2 linked regions of the Homo sapiens genome follow. The protein of the gene in region 1 interacts with the protein of each later gene in a biochemical or structural test. Each region holds a gene or a part of one and is shown in the gene's direction. Other genes may lie near its edges.

Region 1 (3,656 bases):
TTGGTCTGTGCTGAGTCACTATAGCAAGAGACCTGTCCTGTGCTTTCTGAACATGTTACCAGTGGAGTTTTCAAAGCCCAAAGATTTGTTATTAGCAGTTTAACACTAATAATGCTGTATGATTATATGGGATCCCATACTTTCCGAAACATTTTCTTTTAAATGATCTATGTCATGGCAGGCCTGTGAAATAGATGTTGAATAGATAATGCCCTTATTTTATAAATGGAGAAATTGAAGCATAAAATCACATAGCTCACTTATCACACAGAAAGTTAATGGTGGAAACACAGGCTTCCTTCCAGGACACTGCTACTTCCTCTGTCCTGTTGCTTAAAAACTGCACGTCTGCCGGCCACAGTGGTGCATGCCTGTAGCCTAAGCTACTCAGGAGGCTGAGGTGGGAGGATCATTTGAGCTAAGGATTATTAATAGAATCTAGCCTTGACAACATAGTTGAGACCCTGTCTGTAAAACAAAATAAAGGTCTTTAGCAGTTAGCCCATTTCACAGCATACATTTCTGATCTCCATGTATAACTAATTTAGGAAATGGATAATATTATTCAAAATTTGTTTCTTATATGCTAATATTTTTCTCTCCCTGCTAATATTTTTCACTTGTCTTCTACTCTTAGCCCCCATTCACTGGGGAGAATAGAAAGAAAACAATTGACAAAATCCTCAAATGTAAACTCAATTTGCCTCCCTACCTCACACAAGAAGCCAGAGATCTGCTTAAAAAGGTAAGGTTCTTAAATGGTCACTGACACTACAAGATTCAATGACTAGGATTTAACTAGATAGAATTTAATGTATATTTTGAATAAAGAGTCATATATAAATATTGAACAAAAAAGTCTTCAATTTTTGAAGGCGAAGTACAGATTTGTTTAAAGACTTTCTTTTCATATTCTTTTTTTAAATTTTTTTTTTTTGAGACAGGGTCTTGCCCTGTCACCCAGGCTAGAGTGCAGTGGTGCGATCTTGGCTCACTGCAACCTCAGTCTCCCAGGTTCAAGCGATTCTTCCGCCTCAGCCTCTCAAGTAGCTGGGATTACAGGCACCCGCCACCACGCCCGGCTAATTTTTGTATTTTTAGTAGAGACAGGGTTTCACCGTGTTGGTCAGTCTGGTCTGGAACTCCTGACCTCAGGTGATCCACCTGCCCTGGCCTCCCAAAGTGCTAAGTGCTGGGATTACAGACCCTTAAACAATATTAAGTAGTAATTAGTAAACTATATTTTCTTTTCTTTTCTTTTCTTTTTTTTCTGAGATGGAGTCTTGCTCTGTCGTCCAGGCTGGAGTGCAATGGCATGATCTTGGCTCTCACTGCAACCTCCACCTCCCAGGTTCAAGTGATTCTCCTGCCTCAGTCTCCCTAGTAGCTGGGATTACAGGTGTTCACCACCACGCCAGGCTAATTTTTGTATTTTTAGTAGAGAAGGGGTTTCACCATGTTGGCCAACCTCGAACTCCCAACCTCAGGTGATCCACCTGCCTCAGCCTCCCAAAGTGCTGGGATTACAGGCATGAGCCACTGTGCCTGGCCAATAAACTATATTTTCTCAAGCCAAAGTAGACAAGCACAGTCTAAAAAGGAAAAAAAAAAATCAGTTTGACTAAGGTTCTTTATCCAAGCTTTTTTTCCTCTTTAAAGCTGCTGAAAAGAAATGCTGCTTCTCGTCTGGGAGCTGGTCCTGGGGACGCTGGAGAAGTTCAAGTAGGGATTGGCATCTTTGGTGTTTTGTGGGGAAGATAATGCTAGTTTTATGTATTTCTGAGGGTTATATGTAGTTGCTTATAAGTTTAGCTTATTTTGTGACTTGTAACTTCAAAAAGGTGATTAATTTATCAATCCAGCAAAGTCTAGTCCCCTCAACTTTTCTTCCTGCTTTTTTTTTCCTAGGCTCATCCATTCTTTAGACACATTAACTGGGAAGAACTTCTGGCTCGAAAGGTGGAGCCCCCCTTTAAACCTCTGTTGGTAAGTATACATGAAAGTGTATAATTGGGTGCAGTGGCTCACGCCTGTAATCCCCAAACTTTAAAGGGCCAAGGTGGGAGGATTGTTTGAGGCCAGGAGTTCAAGACCAGCATGGGCAACATAACAAGACTCCATATCTACAAAACATTTAAAAGTTAGCTGGGTGTGGCGGCTTGTGCCTGTAAGTCCCAGCTACTTGCAAGGCTGAGGCAGGAGGATCGCTTGATATTTTTTTAGAATAAGAAAAATCTCAGAGCAGACAGAAACATTATTTTTATTAGCAGTTCAAAGATCTCTGGTCTATCCTCTCCAGCATCTTTATTTTATTTTATTTTGAGATGGGGTCTCACTCTGTCACCCAGGATGGAGTGCAGCAGCACGATCACAGTTCAATGCAGCCTTGACCTCCCCAGGCTCAGGTGATTCTCCCACCTCAGCTTCCCAAATAGCTACGACTACAGACACGTGTCACCATGCCTAGCTAATTTTTTTGTATTTTTTATAGAAATAGGGTTTTGCCATGTCACCCAGACTGGTCTTGAACTCCTGGGCTCAAGTGATCCACCCACCTCAGCCTCTCAAAGTGCTGGGATTACAGGTGTGAGCTTCTGCACCCAGCCAAGCATCTTTTATTTTTGTACTATCTTGTAAAGAACTAAACCCAGTGGCAATTGACTGTATTAGCTATTTTTAAGTCAGTTACCTAAGACAAATATTTCAGGTAGTTGGGACTTTCCTTTTTTTGGTTTGTTTTATTTTGCTTAATTTAACCATTTTAAATATGATTCTCTGGGAATTTTTTCTTCAAAGTATAGAATATGTGTGCATTCGTTTGCTAGGCTTGCTGCAACAAAGTACCACAAACCGGGTGGCTTAGACAACAGAAATTTATTATCTCATAGATCTGGAGACTAGAAGTTCTAGATCACATTGTTAGAGTTGGTTTCTTTGACTACTGTGAGAAACTGTATGTTCCATGCCTCTCCCCTGGCTTCTGGTGGTTTGCTGGTAATCTTTGTCATTCTTTGGCTTGTAGGTGCATCACCCGGATCTCTGCCTTCATGTTCACATGGTGTTCTACCTGTGTGCATATCTGTGGCCAAATTTCCCCTTTTTATAAGGATACCAGGCATATTGGATTAGGGTTCCTCTCTACTCCAGTAGGACCTCATCTTCACTAATTACATCTGCAATAACCCTTTCCAAATAAGGTCACATTCTGAGGAACTAGAGGTTAGAATTTCAATGTACGAAATTTTTTGGGGGTGGGTAAGGCACACGATTCAACCCATAACAATATGTTTGTGAGTAAATCAGTTAGTGTGTTAGTTATTGTCCTTCTCCCACCTCAGAATCTGAGAAAATACAGTTTCTTTTTCCATTCCTTAGGATGTAGTTGGAGAAGGAGGAGGATGATGATGGTGATTATTTTTTGGTCATGGAGCATAATGTCCCCACTTTAAAAAACAACAAACAATTGTAAGGAAGTTAACTGTCATATACCTACTGCCCAGCTTAAAAAATGATTAGGTCATCTTGTTTAAACATAACTGCCATCCCATCATCACACCTCAGAAGTTGACAGTTTCCTTAGTTGTTTTTTTTTTTTTTTCCTTTTTCTTTTCTTTCTTTTTTTTTTTTTTGGGGGGGGGATAGGGTCTTTCTCTGTT
Region 2 (3,656 bases), on another chromosome or scaffold:
CAAGTGTTCTTCCTGCCTCAGCCTCCCAAGTAGCTGGGACTACAGGCACATGTCACCACACTTGGCTAATTTTTTATTTTTTTGTAGAGATGGCATCTCACTGTATTGCCCAGACTTGTCTCGAACTCCTGGCCTCAAATGATCCTCCTGTTTCAGCTTCCCTAAGTGCTGGGATTACAGGTGTGAGGCACTGTGCCCGGCCTGTATATTGACTTTAAACAACAATTTATAATGTGAGTCATTTCACATATCTCTTTGATTATTTATTTTATTTCCTAGCACCATAAAGTTGTTTTTATTGACAAGATCATCTTCTCCATGCCAGTCTGTTTGTGTACTGCCAATTTTCTGTCTGGTTAGTTGGATTTCCCTGCTACTACTGCAAGTGTGGACTGCAGACCCATAGCATCAGCTCACCTGGGAGCTTGTGAGATGCTGAAGCTCAGACCCACCACAGACCTACTGAATGGGAATTTGCATTTTCATAAGCTCCTGGGTGATCTGTATGTACTTGAAAGCTGGAGCATCACTCTCTTAGATTGTAAGCACAGGCTCCAGGTTACCTTAAACGGGGGCACTTCTGAAGCAGGCATGGGAGAGAAGGAAGGCAAAAATCTCAATTGCCAGGGCCCTGACCTCCTAGAGATTAAAATGTAGTTCAGAACTCAGGTTGGGATCAAATGCACTTTAATTGACATGGTTATCTTTTTCTTCCTGATTGTAGTGCTTTTAACTACTGTATTAGTCCATGTTCACATTGCTGATAAAGACATACCTGAGACTGGGTAAATTACAAAGAAAAAAAGGTTCAATGGACTCACAGTTCCATGTGGCTGGGGAGGCCTCACAAACATGGTGGAAGGCAAACGGCATGTCTTACATGGTGTCAGGCAAGAGAGAGAATGAGAACCAAGCGAAAGGGGTTTCCCCTTATAAAACCATCAGATCTCATGAGACTTATTCACTGCCATGAGAACAGTATTGGGGGAACCGCCCCCATGATTCAATTACCTTCCACCAGGTCCCTCCCACATATGTAGCATTATGCAAGCTACAATTCCAGATGAGATTTTGGTGGGGACACAGCCAAACCATATCAACTATTGATGTTACTTTCCTTTGTTTCCTTTCTTTCTGCTGCTTCTCCTCCTCACAACTTCTGTTTCCTCGGGGCCCTTCCTGCTTCACAGCTTCCCTGTCCTGCCTTCTCTCTGAGTGCACTGTGGCTGCCATGCACAGGGCAGGACTGAGGCACCCCAACCAGTCTACTATTTTGGCTTCCTTTTCAATTTAAATTCAATTTAAATATTATTTAAATATTTGATCAACATTTATTTGGTGATGTTCTTTTTTTAATTTGTAAAATATACAGAAGGAGCAGGATTGAAAAATTAATTAGTTCTGGTAAAATTCAAATAACAAATTTTACCATCTTAAGCATTTCTAAGTGTATAGCTCAATAATGTGAAGTATGTTTTCATCGTTGTGCAGCCAATCTCCAGAGGTTTTTCATCTTTTAAGATGGAAACTCTACCCATTAAACAACTCCCATTCCCCTCACCCCACAGCCCCTGGCAACCACCATTCTACTTTCTGCTTCCATGAGCTTGACTACTATACCTCATATTTGTCTTTCTGTGACTGGCTTATTTCACTTAGCATAATGTCCTCAAGGTTCATCCGTATTGTAGCATGTGTTAGAATTTCCTTTTTTTTAAGGCTGACTCATATTCTATTGTAGTATGTCCCATGTTTTGTTTATCCATTCATCAGTTGATGAAATTTGGGTTGCTTCTACATTTTGTCTATTGCGAATAGTGCTGCTGTGAACATCAGTGTACAAATATCTCTTCAAGACCCCGATTTCAGTTCTTTTTGGATATACATCCAGAAATGGTTGCTGAATTATATGATAATTCTATTTCAATTTTCTGAGAAATTGCCATATTGTTATCTATAATGGCTACACCATTTTTACATTCCTACCACCTGAGTCCAAGGTTCCCATTTGTCTACAGCCTTGCCAACACTTGTTATTTTCTGTTTATGTGATAGCGGCCATCCTGAATATAAAGTGATGTTTCATTATGGTTTCCCTTTGCATTTGCCTTATGATTAACGATGTTGAGTACTTTTTCATGTGCTTGTTGGCAAGTGATGTTCTTTTAAATGTGTACTATGTTCTTTATGGTCAAAATAAATAATTTATTCTGTGTAATTTTCCAAACCACACAACTTCTTGGAAGGCATGTTTAAGTGTTCACATAATAAAACAGTACATTTCTTCCTTGCAAACAGCCCTACACCACATATTTTTCCATTTCTGGCTCTGTCTGCCAACTTCAATGGGCTGTCCTCAGGGTTGGGTTGGCTGGAGTGGCCCTGTGTGACAGGCATGTGAGTGTCCCTGAGCACCGTACAGATACTAGTCTGCATTGTCAAGGAGTGTTTTAAGTCTCCACCTCAGGGTGATGACTGCTTTGGTAGGAAAGGAGGCAATCTAAAATTCACCTGATTTCTGATTCATTCCAATAATGTTTTGGTGTCTTTGAATATGGCAGCCCCCTGGGCAGCAGTCCAGCCAGCAGACCTTATAACTTAGCTCTGTCTGTATGTCTGACATCCAGACTCACTAGAAGAGGATCTAAATGGGCCAGGGAATTACTTGTCCCTGGGACAGAGCAATTACACCATCCCTCATAGGCCCCAGAAGGCCTATGGACCTTTGCTTGGGCACCAGGAGCTTCTCTGAGAGCAGGTTTGGGGTGGGCTTGGCCTCCAGAGTGGCCTCCTCCTGCAATGTCAGGCTAGATTAACATCTATGAGAGTCTCCTGTACAAGGAGAGGTGGGAGGCTGTGAACACTCCTATGTAACACCATTTGTCCCCTTGTGTGATTGCTTCACCAATGTTGACAGCTCATGTGACACACCTGTCTTCTTCTGATGGAGGAAGGAAGTAATACCATTTTCTATCAAAAGCATTCTTTGATCATCCCTGTCCTAAAAAAAAGTTACTTGATGGGTCTCTTGTCAAAATCAGTGATATGGTTTGGATGTTTTATCCCTTCCAAATCTCATGTTGAAATATGACCTCTAGGCCGGGCTCAGTGGCTCACAACTGTAATCCCAGCACTTTGGGAGGCTGAGGCGGGCGGATCACTTGAGGTCAGGAGTTTGAGACCAGCCTGGCCAACATGGTGAAACCCCATCTCTACTAAAAATACAAAAATTAGATGTGGAGTTCAGAGTGGAAACAGGTGTGAGAGGGTTCAACAGAAGAAAACATAGCTGCCAAGTGTTTGAGTCCATCGGCAAGTTTGGACTGGCCTTAGCTGTTGCAGAAGGCATGGTGAACTCTGCCTTATATAACATGGATGCTGGGCACAGAACTGTCATCTTTGACCGATTCTGTGGAGTACAGGACATTGTGGTAGGGTAAGGGACTCACTTTCTCATACCATGGGTACAGAAACCAATTATCTTTGACCACCGTTCTCAACCACATAATGTGCCAGTCATCACTGGTAGCAAAGATTTACAGAATGTCAATATCATTCCGTGCATCCTCTTTGGGCCTGTCACTAGCCAGCTTCCTCGCATCTTCACCAGGATCGGAGAAGACTATGATGAGCGTGTGCTGCCATCCATCACTACT

Evidence for each region.
Region 2: of the proteins of RPS6KB1 (region 1) and NR1I2, one has a biochemical effect on the other in vitro, tested with the Homo sapiens proteins (one study listed by BioGRID).

What each region holds. Positions count from the first base shown.
Region 1 is NC_000017.11:59,934,556-59,938,211, forward strand, and holds part of RPS6KB1 (ribosomal protein S6 kinase beta-1), read left to right. Parts: intron 1-637; coding exon 638-745; intron 746-1,659; coding exon 1,660-1,722; intron 1,723-1,908; coding exon 1,909-1,986; intron 1,987-3,022; coding exon of another isoform or gene 3,023-3,071; exon of another isoform or gene 3,072-3,219; intron 3,220-3,656. UniProt on the Homo sapiens protein: Serine/threonine-protein kinase that acts downstream of mTOR signaling in response to growth factors and nutrients to promote cell proliferation, cell growth and cell cycle progression.
Region 2 is NC_000003.12:119,788,536-119,792,191, forward strand, and holds part of NR1I2 (nuclear receptor subfamily 1 group I member 2), read left to right. Parts: intron 1-3,656. UniProt on the Homo sapiens protein: Nuclear receptor that binds and is activated by variety of endogenous and xenobiotic compounds.